Linked DNA regions of Homo sapiens: region 1 is linked to region 2. A link means that fine-mapping ties the variant in region 2 to the expression of a gene that starts in the linked region. Tissue or cell type: whole blood. Region 2 holds a variant in brackets; the other region holds the start of a gene. All regions are shown on one strand. Distances are between the middles of the regions.

Region 1 (8,090 bases), 280 kb before region 2:
TCTCTTATAAATATAGACACAAAAATCTTCAACAAAGTACTAGAAAACTTAAATCCAGCAACATGTAAAAAGATTATGCCCTATGACCAACTGAGATTTATCCCAGAAATGCAAGGTTGGTTTAACAAATGAAAATTAATCAATGTTATACACCATATTAACAGGAGACAAAAACCACATGATCATCTAAATAGACAAAACATTTGATAAAATCAAACACTCCTTCATGATAAAAACACTCAACAATCTAGGAATAGAAGGTAACTTCCTCACTTTGATTAAAGTACAGCTACCAAAAAAACAACAGCTAACAACACACTTAATAATGAAAGACTTGCCAGGTGTAATGGCTCATATGTGTAAACCCAGCACTTTGGGAGGCTGAGGTAGGAGGATCCCTTGAGGACAGGAGTTTCAGACCAGCCTGGTCAACATAGCAAGACCCCATCTCTAACTGAAAAAAGAAAGAGGCCAGGCATGGTGGCTTATATCTGTAATCCTAGCACCTTGAGAGGCCAAGGCAGGAGAGCAAAAAAAAAAAAAAAAAAATTAGCCAGGCATGGTGGCATGCACCTGTAGTCCTAGCTACTCAGGATGCTGAGGTGGGAGGATCATTTGAGCCCAGAAGTTGGAGGTTACAGTGAGCTATGATTGCACCACTCTAGCCTAAGTGACAAAGTGAGACCCGTCTCAAAAAAGAAAATAAAAAATATGAGTAAGTTTAACAAGAGAAACACAAGATTTGTACAATGAAAACCACAAAACACAGCTTGGCACAGTGGCTTATGCCTGTAACCCTATCACGTTGGGAGGCCAAGGTGGGAGAACTGCTTGAGACCAAGAGTTTGACACCAGCCTAGGCAACAAAGCGGGACCCTGTCTCTAACTTAAAAAACAAAATAAGTCCAGGTGAGGTGGCTCACACCTGTAATCCCAGCACTTTGGGAGGCCAAGGTGGGTGGATCTAACCCCATTAGAGATGGGGTTTCACCATGTTGCCCAGGAGTTTGAGACCAGCCTGGGCAACATGGTGAAATCCCGTCTCTAAAAAAATTTAAAAATCAAAAAAATACAAAATAAAAAACAAAGTAAACCTACAAAAAATACAGTTGAAAGACATTAAGAAGCTTTAAATAAATGTTAAGACATTCGATGTCCGTGGATTGGAATACGATATTGTTAAGATGGCAATACTCCTTGATCTACAGATTCAAGGGAATTCCTATTAAAATCCTAGATGGCTTTTTTGTGGAAATTGACAAGCTGACCCTAAAATTCATGTGGCAATGTAAGGGACCCAGTATATCCAAAGCAATCTCGAAAAAAGAGAACGAAATTGGAGGATTCATACTTCCTAATTTCAAAACTTACTACAAAGCTAAAATTATCAAGCCTTTTGATACTGGCATAAGGACAGACATATAGAAGAACGAAATAACATTGAAAGTCCAGAAGTAAACCAATATATTTAAGGTCCAATGAGTTTTGGCAAGGGTGCCAAGAGGATTGAATGAGGGAAATAATATCTTTTCCAACAAATGGTGCTGGGACAATTGTGCATGGAAAAGAACGAAATTGGACCTCTACCTCATACCATATACAAAATTATCTCATAATGAATCAAAGACCTAAATGTAGGAGCTAAAAACAACAAAATTCTTAGAAGAAAGCACACGTGTAAATCTTTATGATACTGTATTAGGCAATGGTTTATTAGATATAGATATGACACCAACAGCACAAACAAGATAAATTGGACTTTATCAAAATATAAAACTTTTGAGCTTCAGGCCGGGCGCGGTGGCTCATGCCTGTAATCCCAGCACTTTGGGAGGCCGTGGTGGGCGGATCATGAGGTCAGGAGATCGAGACCATCCTAGCTAACACGGTGAAACCCCGTCTCTACTAAAAATACAAAAAAATTAGCTGGGCGTGGTGGCGTGTGCCTGTAGTCCCAGCTACTCCGGAGGCTGAGGCAGGAGAATGGCATGAACCCGGAAGGTGGAGCTTGCAGTGAGCCGAGATTGCGTTACCGCACTCCAGCCTGGGCAACTCAAAAAAAAAAAAAAAACTTTTGAGCTTCAAAGGACACTATCAGAAAGTGAAAAGACAACTAACCTGCAGAATGAGATAAAATATCTGCAAATCATATATCTGATAAGCATCTAGTATCTAGAATATATAAAGAATTCTTATAACTCAACAATAAAGAGGCCGGGCCTCTTTACATGCCTGTAATCCCAACACTTTGAGGGGCCAAGGTGGGAGGATCACTGGAGTCCAGGAGTTTAAGACCAGCCTGACCTAGTGTCTACAGACATTTTTTTTTTTTTGAGTCACAGTCTCACTCTGTCACCCAGGCTGGAGTGCAATGGCATGATCTCAGCTCACTGCAACCTCCGCCTCCCGGGTTCAAGCAATTCTCCTGCCTCAGCCTCCCAAGTAGCTGGGATTACAGATGCCCACCACCATACCCAGCGAATTTTTGTATTTTTAGTAGAGACAGGATTGCCATGTTGGCCAAGCTGGTCTTGAACTCCTGACCTCGTGGTCCACCTGCCTCAGCCTCCCAAAGTGCTGGGATTACAGGTGTGAGCCACCGCACCCGGCCTGGAAAATTTTAAAAAATCATCTGGACATGGTAGCATGTACCTGTAGTCCTGGCTACTTGGGGTGCTGAGTTGGGAGGATTGCTTGAGTCTGGGAGGTCGAGGATGCAGTCAGCAGTGATCATGCCACTGCACTCCAACCTGGGCAACAAAGGGAGACCCTGCCAAAAAAAAAAAAAAAAAAAGGCCGGGCGCAGTGGCTCATGCCTGTAATCCCAGCTCTTTGGGAGGCCAAGCCGGGCAGATCACAAGGTCAAGAGATTGAGACCATCCTGGCCAACATGGTGAAACCCCGTCTCTACTAAAAATACAAAAATTTGCTGGGTGTGGTGGCGTGCGCCTGTAGTCCCAGCTACTCGGGAGGCTGAGGCAGGGGAATCGCTTGAACCCAGGAGGTGGAGGTTGCAGTGAGCTGAGATCGTGCCACTGCACTCCAGCCTGGTGACAGATCAAGACTCCGTCTCAAAAAACAAAAACAAACAAACAAACAAAAAACATCAATTTAGAATAGTACCTGGAACATAGTAAAATCTATAAATATTAGCTATTGCATGTATACAGCGATAGCCAATTGTTCCACCACGATTTGTAGAATCCTTTTCCCTCTGATTTTATTTTTATTTATTTATTTATTTATTTATTTATTTATTTATTTTGACACGGAGTTTCGCTGTTGTTGCCCAGGCTGGAGTGCAATGGCGGGATCTTGGCTCACTGCAACCTCCGCTTTCCAGGTTCAAGTGATTCTCTTGCCTCGGCCTCCTGAGTAGCTGGGATTTACAGGCGTGAGCCACTGCGCCCGGCCAACATACAAATTTTTCTTATATATTTAAGGTATGTTTCCATCACTGTATTCTTTTAAGTAGGAATTGTTTTAGGGGAGAATAGTTTGGAAGCCAAGACTCCTCTCAACTTTTCTCAATTCACTACATAAGAAAGAAAGATTTTACATCTGTTTCATTTTAGGTATCTAGGGAGAAATCACCCAGATTCTTCCTACCTCTCAGAGGGTGCTGTGAGGATAGATGAGATGCTAGACAGAAAGTTCAGAAAGCTGAGTAACATAAAGCTGCAAAAGGAGAGAACAGAGATTCCATAGATAATATTTTAAGTCAACTACAATTCGTTAAATTTTAAGAAAATTATTTATTTTATTTATTTATCGAGACAGGGTTTCACTCTGTTGTCCAGGCTGGAGTGCAGTGGCCTGATGTGGGCTCACTGCCACCTCAACCTCCTGGGCTCAAGCGATCTTCCCACTTAGCCCCCCGAATAGCTACTACAGGTGCAGGCCACCATGCCCGGCTAATTTTATATTTTTTCGTAGAGCTGAGTTTTCGCCATGTTGCCCAGGCTGGTCTCAAATTCCTGGGCTCAGGCGATCCTCTTGCCTCGGCCTAGCAGTGTTGGGATTACAGACGTGAGCCACTGCACCCAGCCTGTTTTTTGTTTTTCTTTTTTCTTTTCCTGGTTTGTCTTGAACAAGACATATAAATGTAAGACTATAGACTTTGCATTTGATATTTCCCCCGAAATCTTCCCAGGTCATAATTCAACTCCTGGTGTGTTACTTCCTCAAAGAGGTCTTCTCTCAAACACTAGGAGTAAAGCTTCTTCCCCACTCCTAGTCACCTTCTGTCTCACTATCCTGAAGCGCTTTTCACTATTTGAAATATTTGTGTTTATTGGCTTTTTAACTGTCTCCCCTTCCTCACTCAAATATAAATTCTACCTGGGTTGGTAACTCCTTAACCCCATGCTTAGAACAATGCTTTGCACGGGGGGTATAGCTCAGGGATAGAGCATTCGACTGCAGAACAATGCTTTGCATGTAGTATGCCCTACGTTTTGTGAAAATATTTGCTGAATAATATAGTGATTTTAAAAAATCCCCAAGCAGTTTCATGTATCTCATTTGATCATTACAACTATTTGAATAAAATGAGATTGTTAGTCCCATTGTACAGAGACTCAGAGAAGGTTTTCACCCAAGGCAATAGGGCTAGTAAAATGGTAGTGTTAGAATTGCTGTGCGGGTGGATTGCTTTGTCCGTACATGGACTTCATTTCTAGCGCTAAGGGTATTTTAAATTACTTTGCCGTTAAGGAAGCGATGACTCTGAAAGATAGTAGTAACCACCACTACAGGCACCTGTAAAGATCCTCTCTCCTTTTTCCTTTCTTTCTCCCGCTAGATTCTGCAGCCGAACACGTGTGACCTGTGTGGACAGTACTCGCTCAGTCTCCCTCCCCAGCCCTGCCCACAGTAAGCCCGGCCCCTTCTTTTCCCGGAGCCCCCGCCTCTCGGCCGCTTTCCAACTCAGCCCCCACGGATCTCGCCCTTCCCCCGCGGACCCATGACTTCTCGCGAGAGTTGAGCGCGCCTGGCCGGACGGGAGGAAAGTATCCGTTCCGCCAAGGGGGGAAAGGAGGAGCTGGAGACAGATTGTAGGACCGAGCGCGGGCAGGCGGGAGGCAACGGAGCTACCAGCCGGTAAGTCCTTTTAACATTAGCTAGTCCATGATCTGACGGGAGTCTCCCTTTCAACTCTGGCCAGTCCCAGCGTTCCAGGCTGGGGTCTCCCCTCCCAGTCTGTGTTGGACGGGGGCGCTGAGGCGGTGGCCGGGCCCTGTCTGAGGAAGAGGGTGGGGCATAGGCCAAAGCCGACCAATGGGAGAGAAGGAAGCCTCGATTGGCGGCGATGAGCGCTAATGGGAGATCGCTTTTACGTTGCCGAGCGCCGCCCTTCTCTCCCTACTCCCGCCTCCTTCCTTTGGGGGGAAGGCGGGGCCAGAGGCTTGAAGTGTGGGGAGAACTTGGTGTAAGTAGCCCCGGGGGGCACAGGGCGTGGCAAGGAGAGGGGAATTGAATCCTGAGGGAAGGGTAGTCTAGTGGAGCCTAATGGAAGGATCATGGGATGGGGTGGAATGGGAGAAAGAGGAGGGATACTAAACTAAGTTAGAAACCCAGGGCTTCCCAAAGAGTGGGATTAGGAGCTTGGAATTGGAAAAGGGTAATAGGAAGGAGGTAGGAATGAGTAGATGAGAACAAAGATCTTGATCTGGTGACACAACACCCCGTTGGGTTTGGCAGAAAAGATAGATGGGGTGGATTATTGGAAATGAGGGTCATGGCATTTTGATTGAATTAATTAAAAGAACATCAGGGACATGATATCAGAGAGAAAGTATGGATTTGGAGAAAATTAAGTGAATTAATTTAAGAGGACAGTATGGGTGAGCTGAGTCGCCATAAGGCATGGCTTCTGGAAGGATATGAGCCTTGAGAGCGATAAGAGGTGTTTGGGAAGGAGATGGCTGATATACACATGTCTTTAGCCTAGGTATCAGGTGGTTGGGATATTGATTTAGGGCTTCTGGTGGATATGGCACCCAGACTGGTGACCAGCCTCCAAGATGCTGGGATGGGGGTTGAGAAGGAGAAAAATAGAACGCTTTCATCGCTTCTCTGATTTTCCTTCTCCCTCTCTTCTATTACCCAAACTCTTCCCAGACACCAGGATGTGGTCTTGGGACTTAAGCAGTCCAAGTTGGAGCCCCATAGGGACTTAATATGTTGCTCTGAATTGCTTGTTATGTTCTCTGACTGGGGTGTTTACAACCCAGGGCACCTCCTACCCAGATTCCCGCGTTGCTACTTTCCTAACTTTAAAAGTTTGTTTTCTGCTTAACAGAGGGTGTTTTAGTATCTCTGAGGGTCATGTCATATTAAGTACAGGTGTGTAGGGGGTGTGCAGAGTTTTCTCAGCAAGCTCACATGAGTCCTGTGTTTAAAAATTTTGCAGTAGTGTAATTCTTGTAGCGATATCAGTCTTTATGGGCATTCTAAGCAGAAATATACTAAAATGAAGTTTGTTTTGTTAAATGTGGCTTCCCCAGTCATTCTCGAAGAGTTGTCGAATGGGTGGTTGCAGTTTGTTTTAGTTAACTTACATAATGTGTTTTTAAATAGTGTAAATAAAATAGACATGTTATTTCAGGAAAGTGAAAAATGTTCAGTTTTTTCCTTTGTGTCCAGACTCAGAAACTAAAGCTATGTCATAATATCTTAGGCCAAGGGCTGGGGAAATCAAACACAATTTGTACTTACACATGGAAGTTGTAAGGTAAGTGGAGGCTCTTGCGAAATGTAACATGTCTGTAAGAAAAGAAGCTAAAGAAAAGTTTGCAAGCTCTGCTAAGTAGTCTTACCAGTTCTTAATTCTGTACAGAAAAGGGACAGGGCTTTGCCCTTTGTTTGATAGTTGTGTATCATTTAATAACGAATTGGACTAATATAGCCAATTAATAACTTCTTTGCTCTTGCGTAGATTTTGCTTTTACATTCCTTCTCTTCTCCTTTTACTTTTGAGAAGGGAAATAATGTCTGAAATATCAGTAAAGCTATTACATGAAGAGAAACCAGAGTACGTAGTTGTATTAACCTTTGGTTTTCTGCAATCAGCTGAAGCCTTTCTCCCTGGCCAAGAAGTTGCCCCTATAGCACATTGAGACCAATTCATTGCTGACCCGTTAGCATTAACTACTGAGCTGGGTTCTAGTATTTCACAGTAAGTGCATTGCTATTGGACATTCAGAACATTTCCAGTTTGCCTGGCAGCAGTACAGAAAATTACCCAGTGAGAGAGCAGAGTCCCTTGTTTTGGTCTTCTGCCCTAGAATTGGTGATTGCTTTGACTAGGGCACTATTAAACCCAAGATTTTTTTTTTCTCACTAGTGCTACCATCTAGCAGAAAGCTAGAGTGATAACACTGCTCATCTTTCAACTTGTGGATCAAAGTTTACACCCTGTGGTAGTTTCAGTGTTGTAATTTTTAAACACGTTTGTTTACCACGGTTTTAAAATGTTAATAGCTCTACTTACTGTATCTTGTTCTCTTTCCTTTCCTCATTTCCAACCCAAAATGAAAATTGTTTTTTCAACCAACTCTTAAACTACTTCTTTGCCTGGAGTAAAGTCACTGGCTCTGTCTGAACACAGCTGCTCTGAAGTTCTCAGAAGTTATTGTTTTGTGCATGTCAAGACCGAGTTTTTCCTAGGCTACAGTGGGAGGGAGTTAGTGTTACAGCAGCCTCCTATCCACGTCTGATAAGGAGGAGCCTTCTCCTTGCAAGGAAGTTTTAGGTGGAACAGATAGAACTCCACGTAAATGTCTAATAAAGCTAGCTCTTTTCTTGAGACTAGTTAGCATACTGGTATATAATTGTCCCTTATCCCTTAATAAAAGTACTAAAGTTAAGGTACAGGTGTTTCTTTGAGAAAAACAAATGCAGCATTCATTTAAAAGGAAAAAGCATTCATTTCTTTTGTTGTTGGTTTCTCAGAAAATGGTCCTACGATTTTGGAGTTCATGAAAAAGTCTTCTGTCTCTTTAAAAATATGTCAAAGAAAATAATTTTTAAGCTTCTCTGACATTTACTCATTTTGACATGTTGCCTTCCCCTAAGGTTTTTTTAGG
Region 2 (8,102 bases):
GTGGGTGTTGTCTGGCAGGGCACATTAGATGTCTCTGTCTGTCTCCTCTGTTAATTGAGGTCCTTCTGCTATCCTGTGCCAATGTTCTTGGATTCCTAAGGTCTCCTTATCTGGCAAGAAAGGCCTTAGGGTCCTTTAGAGGGCCAGGTAGAGAGAGAGGGTGATCATCTACGGGTGTGTTAACTTCTTCTAAGACCTGGCCTCTGTGGTTCATGTGTCCCCATGAATGCCCATGGTGTGACTATGACATGTGGTGTGTGCCTGTGTCAGCCTCTGTGTGTCAGGGCAGGGGCTCCTGTGGTGTGCCTATGTGTTGGGAGGGGGTGATGGTGAGAGCCTGGCTCCCTCTCCTCCTCCCCCATCCCTTCTCCCATCTGGCCTTGATCAGCCGGTCCCTAGGGAGGGAGCCGCGGTTTCGGATACAGGAAAATGTTCCAGGAAGCGGCCACTGTGCTGGGCCCTGCTCTGGCTCCCCCAGCGGAAATTGTTCCAGGAGGGAGGGAGGAAGGGAGTGTTGAGATAGGATTAAGGGAGGAGTGGGTTGGTTCTTGGCTCCCCTTTCCACAGGATAAAGCTGGATAAGTTGATGGGAAGCTCAGGTCAGCCAGGAACCTGGATGCTGCCACTGAAATCACTGAATGCAGGAAAATGGGCCAGCAAAAGAGGGTCCCCTTGCCTATCTGCTTCTCTTTTTAATGAAGTTTCAGTATTGGGACGAGGGTGGCCCCTGAGGGTCCCTCTTCTGGCCCTGCTATCATGTACACAAGCTGGAGACCAGAGCACCTGGGTCTTGTCTGAAAGTGGTGTGGCTTGGTGGGGAGGTAGGGGGCATACGATTCAGCTCCCTTTTCTCCCAACTGAGGGGGCTTTGAAGCTTGGATCCAGGACTGGGAGGGCTGCCTAATTGGGATAATGGAGGTTAATGGGGCGCCTGGAGGGGGTTGCCACGCTCCTAGATCAAAGGGGCCAGCTCTTCCCAGCCACCACAGCTGGAGGTCACAGCTGGAGGGGGAGGGGGAGGGGCTTCGGGCCAGCCAGCAGGGGGTGCTCCGGCCCTGGAAAGCCCGTCCTCTGAGTCTCTGATTCTCTTCTTCGCTTGGAACGGCTTTTGCTTAGAGAGTGCATTGGGGAGCGGAGGATAAGAGAATGGGGGAGCTCTGAGATCCCTACTCCTCTCTGTGTGGGGTGATGGGGAAGAGAAAGGGCATGAGAGACTGGCAGGCTGGGGGCCAACGGGATGTTGGCACCGTCGGGACCTCGGGCACTGCAAGATCCGGAGGAAGAAGCTTGGATGCAGCCTCGAGAAAGCTACGGCGGAAGAGGCAGGACTCCGGTCCTGGGTTCGGGCGGCTGAGAAAGGACTGGGCCGGGCAGCGGGGGGCGCTGGCTGGGCGGAGGCGAAGGGGCATCCGGAGTTCCCCCGCCGCCGCCCCCTCCCCCGGGCTGGCGCTCCCTCTCGGGCTCTAATCGGCGCGGCGGCCGCAGCGGGCAGAGTCAGCGCCGCCAGTCTCCGGGACGCGACTCCCAGCAATTGTGGTCGGGACCGCAGATATGCAGCTGCCTCCTGCCCGGGCGCCTGGCCCGGCCGGCCCCGCCCGCGCCCCGCCCCCTGCCGCCCGCCCCTCGGCCGCGCCGGGACACTGAGGCACGGGATGGAGGCGAGATCCCCGGCGGCCCTGAGCCTGGCCTAGGCCGCAAGAGACCTCCCAGCAGCCCCGGAGCTCACGACCTGTCCTGTCCTTCTGAGGGTGCCTATCTCCCCCACAGCTGTGGCTGGGGGCTAAGACCCCCCAAATCCTGCCTCAGCTTCAACCGTCCTTCTTGCCTCACACGTCCACGCGAGGTGGGGGTGGATGGGGGCATTGAACAGCGCTTTGAAATCCAGAGGGGGGCGTCCCATTGAGGCTATGTGGGGAGGAGGTGTTAATGTTGGTAGCTGAGTCCCAAGGACCTTCATTAACTGAGGCGGTGGAAAGTGGGCCTAGGTAGGCTTATAACTTACAGCGGGTTCCTATGTAGGGGAGGTGATGGAAGGTGGGGAGAGGGAGAAATGGGTGAAAAGGGGGAAAGGAAATAGTTCAGGAGGGATTGGGGCAGAGGGCAGAGGCGGGGGTTCTTCTGGGAGACTGAGGGCCAGGTCCTCAGATACTGCCCTGGCCCTTCACTGTTGGCCGGATCCAGCAACTGTCAAGAGCCATTCTCAGAACTGAATAGATACCTCTAAAATGCCTGCATATCCTGTGTGCAAGTGCACACATCAACACACAGATCAAGGGAAGTCATGTGTGACTACTCACCCCTCACATCTGATTGGACACCAAATCCTCTCCACCTCACATCCTCAATATCACCCCTTCATTGACTTATTTTTTTATTTTTTTTTTTCTTGAGACAGAGTCTGGCTCTGTCGCCCAGGCTGCAGAGCAGTGGCACAATCTCAGCTCACTGCAACCTCCGCCTCCCAGGCTCAAGAGATTCTCATGTCTCAGCCTCCCAAGTAGCTGGGATTACAGGCATGTGCCAAAAATTGGCACAGCCAATTTTTGTATTTTTAGTAGAGAAGGGGTTTCACCATGTTGGCCAGGCTGGTCTCAAACTCCTGGGCTCAAGTGATCTGCCCGCCTTGGCCTTTCAAAGTGCTGGTATGTGCCACCGTGCTGGCCCCCTCCACTGACTTCTGCTCATCCTCTCTGCTACTGCAGGCCACACCTTCCCACATCTTGCTTGGACTGCTGCAACAGATTGTTTCCTTGCCTCCGATTTTGCCCTTCTCCCAACTGTGACAATACTGCTAGGCACCATTTATGGAGCAACTACTAAGTGCCAGACACTGTGCTAAGAACTCAACACTTTTTATTGCTAATCCTTGTAACAACCCTGGGAGGTTACCATATTAAGTTGCCCCTTTCAACAGGAGAGGAATCTTAGGCCTCAAAGGTTAAATAGCTCACCCAAGCTTGCACCATTGTAAATGCCTGATTTACCCAGAACCGCCTGGCTCTAAGCCCTTATTTCATTCTCCTCTCTGAAGTCAGTCATTTCTCTAATATACGAGTATTCTCATATATTGCCTTTGGATCAAGTCTAGGCCCCTTGCATAGCTGATTAGAACTTCTCCATCAGCCTCCACTCTGTGTTGCACTCACACTCAATTTTCAGCATCTCAAAAGTTGTTAATCCCTCATACCTCTGAGCCTTTGCATATACTCTTCCCCCTTCCTACAACACTCTTCCTTTTTTTTTTCTTTTAGACAAGGTCTCATTCTGTCACCCAGACTATGTTTTTTTTTTTTTGTATTTTTTGTAGAGATGGGGTTTCGTCATGTTGCCCAGGCTGGTCTCAAACTCCTAGACTCAAGTGATCCACCCACCTCAGCCTCCCAAAGTGCTGGGATTACAGGCATGAGCCACTGCACTGGCACCACTCTTCCTTTTTTTACTTGATAACTCTTATTTGTCCTTCAGTTTCTTTACTTAGTCATGCTGTCTTCCAGGAAGCCTTCCTTAATTCCCCCCCAACACTGGCTTAGATTTACTCTTTTGTCTCCTATAACATCCAGTACTTATTTTTTATTTTATTTTATTTTTATTATTTATTATTTATTTATTTATTTATTTTTTGAGACGGAGTCTCTCTGTGTCACCTAGGCTGGGATGCAGTGGCACAATCTTGGCTCACTGCAACCCCCGCCTCCCAGGTTCAAGCAATTCTCTGCCTCAGCCTCCCAAGTAGCTGGGATTACAGGCATCTGCCACCACATCTGGCTAATTTTTTTGTATTTTTAGTAGAGATGGGGTTTCACCATCTTGGCCAGGCTAGTCTCGAACTCCTGACCTTATGATCTACCCACCTTGGCCTCCTACAGTGTTGGAATTACAGGCGTGAGCCACCACGCCTGGCCCTCCAGTACTTATTCTATCGAGATACTTCCTACTCTTTTGTATTAGTTGCTGGTTAGTTTGTGAGGTGAAGGGATGAGTCTGTCTTGCTTGTTATTGCATGCCTAAGTCTAGCCCAGTGTGCTTAGCACAAAGTAGGTGCTTTCTGAACATTTGTTGAATGAAAGAATGTTCTTTAAGTTCATTCCACATTTCAAAAATCTGGGCTCCGAGGAAGAATGCAGCAGGCCAGAGAAAGCGGGGAGACGTGTGTATTTAGGAATTTTTTTTTTTTTAAATGGAGTCTCGCTTGTCTTCCAGGCTGGAGTGCAGTGGCACAATCTCGGCTCACTGCAATCTCTGCCTTCTGGGTTCAAGTGATTCTCCTACCTCAGCCTCCAGAGTAGCTGGGATTACAGGCACGCGCCACCACACCCAGCTAATTTTTGTATTTTTAGTAGAGACAGGGTTTGTTTGTTTGTTTTTTGTTTTTTTTTTTGAGACGGAGTCTCGCTCTGTCGCCCAGGCTGGGGTGCAGTGGCGCGATCTCGGCTCACTGCAA[G/C]CTCCACCTCCCGGTCACGCCATTCTTCTGCCTCAGCCTACCAAGTAGCTGGGACTACAGGCGCCCGCCACCACGCCCGGCTAATTTTTTGTATTTTTAGTAGAGACAGGGTTTCACCATGTTAGCCAGGATGGTCTCGATCTCCTGACCTCGTGATCCGCCCTCCTCAGCCTCTCAAAGTGCTGGGATTACAGGCATGAGCCACCTCGGCCAGCCTGAGACAGGGTTTTGCCATGTTGGCCACGCTAGTCTCAAACTTCTGACCTCAGGTGATCCACCCACCTCGGCCTCCCAAAGTGCTGGGATTACAGGTGTGAGCCACCTCACCAGGCCTGTATTTAGGATTTTGAAGGACCATTCCCTTGAGTTGCTCAGCCTCACTCCTAGGGATGATGTGATCAGAACTCCATCACCCCAACTTCTTCTTATGAAAGACACTAGTATATTTCATGGATCAGATTCTAGGGTATCGTTTTTACAAAGGGTCATTTTCTAGAGATGACCAGGTTCTTACTTAATTCAATGTTGTCCCATTTTAGACACGGGCATCCAGGACAGGTCCCCTTGTTTCAGAATCAGACCCCAGTCTTCCTCTTCCTTTCATTTTTCACTTTGTCCCCTGCCATCCAGATTCCTTCCTGCTCCTTCCATGGCACTTCTGTTTCTGATTCTGATCTGCCTCTCCTAAAGCTGCTGAATTATATCAGGGCTCAATGTCAATGAAGGAACCCAAGGCTCAGGGAAGAGGGGAGCCAGAGTCAGTCCCAGAGGTCCTGCCTTGCAGCCCTGGTGCTGGAAGAGGGGATGGGGAGACCTAGCAGAGAGGGAGGGAAGTTGTAGTCTGTCTGTACCTGTAAATTTGTGTACATATTTGTTGGGGTGAGGAACTCCTTTTCCAAGCTGTCCTATACAAAGGTTGCCAGCCTCTTAAAAGCTTCCTTTCTACCCTGTGTCCTCAGCTTTGCCTCCTAAAATTGGATCCTCTTCCCCAAGTACCCTGAGCCTAGTGTCAGAAATGCTGGGTCAAGGCACTCGGCAGTCTCTAAATCCTGAGGCCATGAATGGATGTTCCTTCAACCCAAGGAGCAAGCTTTCCTGGTCATCAGCCCCATTGCTCTTAGAGGACCCAACAGACTAGTAGCTGATCCTCAGGGTCTCTCATCTGTATGCCCACCATTTGTTGTTTCCTCTTTGTCTCTCCTGTGTCTTTCTGTTTCCCTGTCTCTGCGTGCCTTCTTCTTTCCTGTCCCCTCTATGTTCTCTGTCGCTGGAGTATCCACTGGAGACAAGGGCTGGGCTGGGTGCATGGGCGGGTAGTGGCCAGACCAGGGGCCCGGGACATGAGCGCAACTTTCCAAGCTTCTCTTCCAGGCCCCTGTGGTTGGGGAGCTCCACAGAGGGAGAGATGAGTCAGCGGGGCCGCAGAGCAGCGGGGGCCTGGGTGGGGGTAGGGATGCTGGGGTTCCCCAGGACCAGGGAGTTCGCTGGGGCCATCTGGGTCTCTGAACTCTGGTGTGTGTGTGGAGTATTGGATCAAAAGTACCTAAAGGTACACTGGAACTTCTTATACTAGTAGGAGTTGGAGGCAGCAATTTGCAGGACTGGCAGTGGCCTCCATATCACCCTTATCTCCAGATCCTTATAGGGAGAGGGGTTCCCAAATGCCCTTTAGGAGACCACAGAGATCTCCAGGGCTGTAAAGTTGTAATGGTAGCCCTGGGTATATGTATGTGACATTTGCCACATGTGTAGATACGTGTGTTGATGGGAGTCTGTGAGTCCATGTGGGGAGTATTCTAGGTGGCTGTGAGTCTGTATGCATGTATATATATACTGGTGTGTGCATTTTTATGATTGGGGGTTAGGGTGTCTTGGGGTAAGCATTATCTGTATATGTATATATCAGTGTGTGTCAATATGGATGCCTGCATAGTACAAATGTGTATGAATTATGTGTCACCTTGTGTGTGTGCAAGTATGCAGATCTGAATGTGTCTGTCATCAGGTATGTATTAGGGCATGTGTCAGTCTCTATTTCAGGGGCTCTGCTCACTATTCTCTGGTGATTCTCCCTAGGGTAGTCAAACCTTCTATAACAGCAACAATGAAGAGTTGGGAGTCCCTTTGGATGAGGCTCTTAGAGACAGCCCAGCCTAGAAAGGTGGTAGAGGGTGATGGTGTGGACGATGGAAGTAGCATCCCTTGGGAATAGGGGGTACAGGTCTCCCACTCTCCCCAGTTTTTTTTTTCTTTCTTTTTTTTTTTTTTTGAGATGGAGTTTTGTTCTTGTTGCCCAGGCTGGAGTGCAATGGCATGATCTCAGCTCACTGCAATCTCCACCTCCTGGGTTCAAGTGATTCTACTGCCTCAGCCTCCCAAGTAGCTGGGATTACAGGCACCCGTCACCACGCTCAGCTGATTTTTGTATTTTTAGTAGAGACGGGGTTTCACCATGTTGGCCAGGCTGTCTCAAACTCCTGACCTCAGGTGATCCACCCACCTTGGCCTCCCAAAGCGCTGGGATTACCGGCGTGAGCCACTGCACCCGGCCCCACTCTCCCCAGTTTTCATTCTGTTTTCACCCCACTGATCTTTCCAAAAAGATCCAAAATCATTTGGAGAACTGAGGCAGGTGCCAGATTCAACCCCCTCTAACCTACAAAGCCCACCCTGATTCTCCTAGGGGAGGGTGGGAAGGGAATGGTTCCTGTGGTTCAGCCCAGTCCTGGCATTGGGATATCAGAAAGGCATCATCCCACCCCTTCCGTCTGGGGCATCCATCCCTTGGAGCTCAGCGTCTGGGTGGCCATGGGCGGAGGCTGAGGGGCCCCCAGGGTGGTGGGGGGTGGTGGATAGAAACCAGATGCCTAGGGGGTTTATACTGGAAGGACCAGAGCCGCAGCCTCTACCCGCCCCTGCCACATGGCGCCTCTCCCTGGTCTGCCCCACCCCCTGGGAGGCTGGGCTGAGGGAGGCCTGAGAGGGTGGAGGTAGGTCCTTGGTTAGGGCTTCCAATTGCTGCCCCCAGCCCCTCAGGGCACTGGGAAGGAGACTGGGGAGCTGGACCCAGGAACACCAGAGCCTCAGCTGGGCTGCAGGACTATTTTTAAAAAGGACATGGAGAAGTCAGAACCCAGGGGTTCCTGAGGGCAGCAGCTGGGGGATTCAGGCAGCCCCTCTGCCTATCTTTGGCGCTGATCTCTGGTGGGGAAGAGGCTCTGTGTCCAGAGGGTGTCCTATGTTGACACATCGGGGCACTGGCTCACATCTTCCTGGGACTCTGCTCCTCCTTTTTATTTCTCCGAGAATAGTAGGGTTCGAATAGAGAATAGTAGGGTTTGAATACGTCTGCCCCTTCCCGGGTAGGGTTAGGGATTAAAGCCCACACGGGGAGTGAGAAGGTGACCCTTCCTTCCAACTCCTCTCCCCAGCCCTGTCTGTCCATTTATCTTTCCATCCTTCCTCCTTTTCCCCTTCAGTTTCTTCCTTTCTTCTCTCATCTAATCTGAGTCCCAACCCCCTCCTCACCTGCTATCTCTTCTTTAGAATCTAGACTTTCTCCTCCTCTGCCTCAGTTTCCTGCCTGATCTAACTGGGTCGGGCTTTTCTGCTGGTGATACAGGAATTTCTCTAAAGCTTCTCTTTCTCAACTTCTGAGTTC

The links. PIP is the estimated chance that this variant, and not a neighbour inherited with it, causes the effect.
Region 1: ATF7 starts here. The variant in region 2 is fine-mapped to the expression of ATF7 in whole blood (TOPMed, PIP above 0.99).

Annotation. Positions count from the first base shown.
Region 1 is chr12:53,623,292-53,631,381 of GRCh38, reverse strand. ATF7 (activating transcription factor 7) reads left to right here and starts at 5,000. Exons shown (of 12, transcript NM_006856.3): 1 at 5,000-5,103. It overlaps ATF7-NPFF (ATF7-NPFF readthrough), which reads left to right and starts at 5,000. Exons shown (of 15, transcript NR_159377.1): 1 at 5,000-5,103. RefSeq lists an enhancer at 5,074-5,143.
Region 2 is chr12:53,338,334-53,346,435 of GRCh38, reverse strand. It overlaps a transcript of SP7 not described here. Among named protein-coding and RNA genes, the nearest start is that of SP7, 6.0 kb to the right of the region's middle. RefSeq lists silencers at 955-1,014, 1,405-1,574. The variant G/C (reference allele first, on the strand shown) is at 4,442.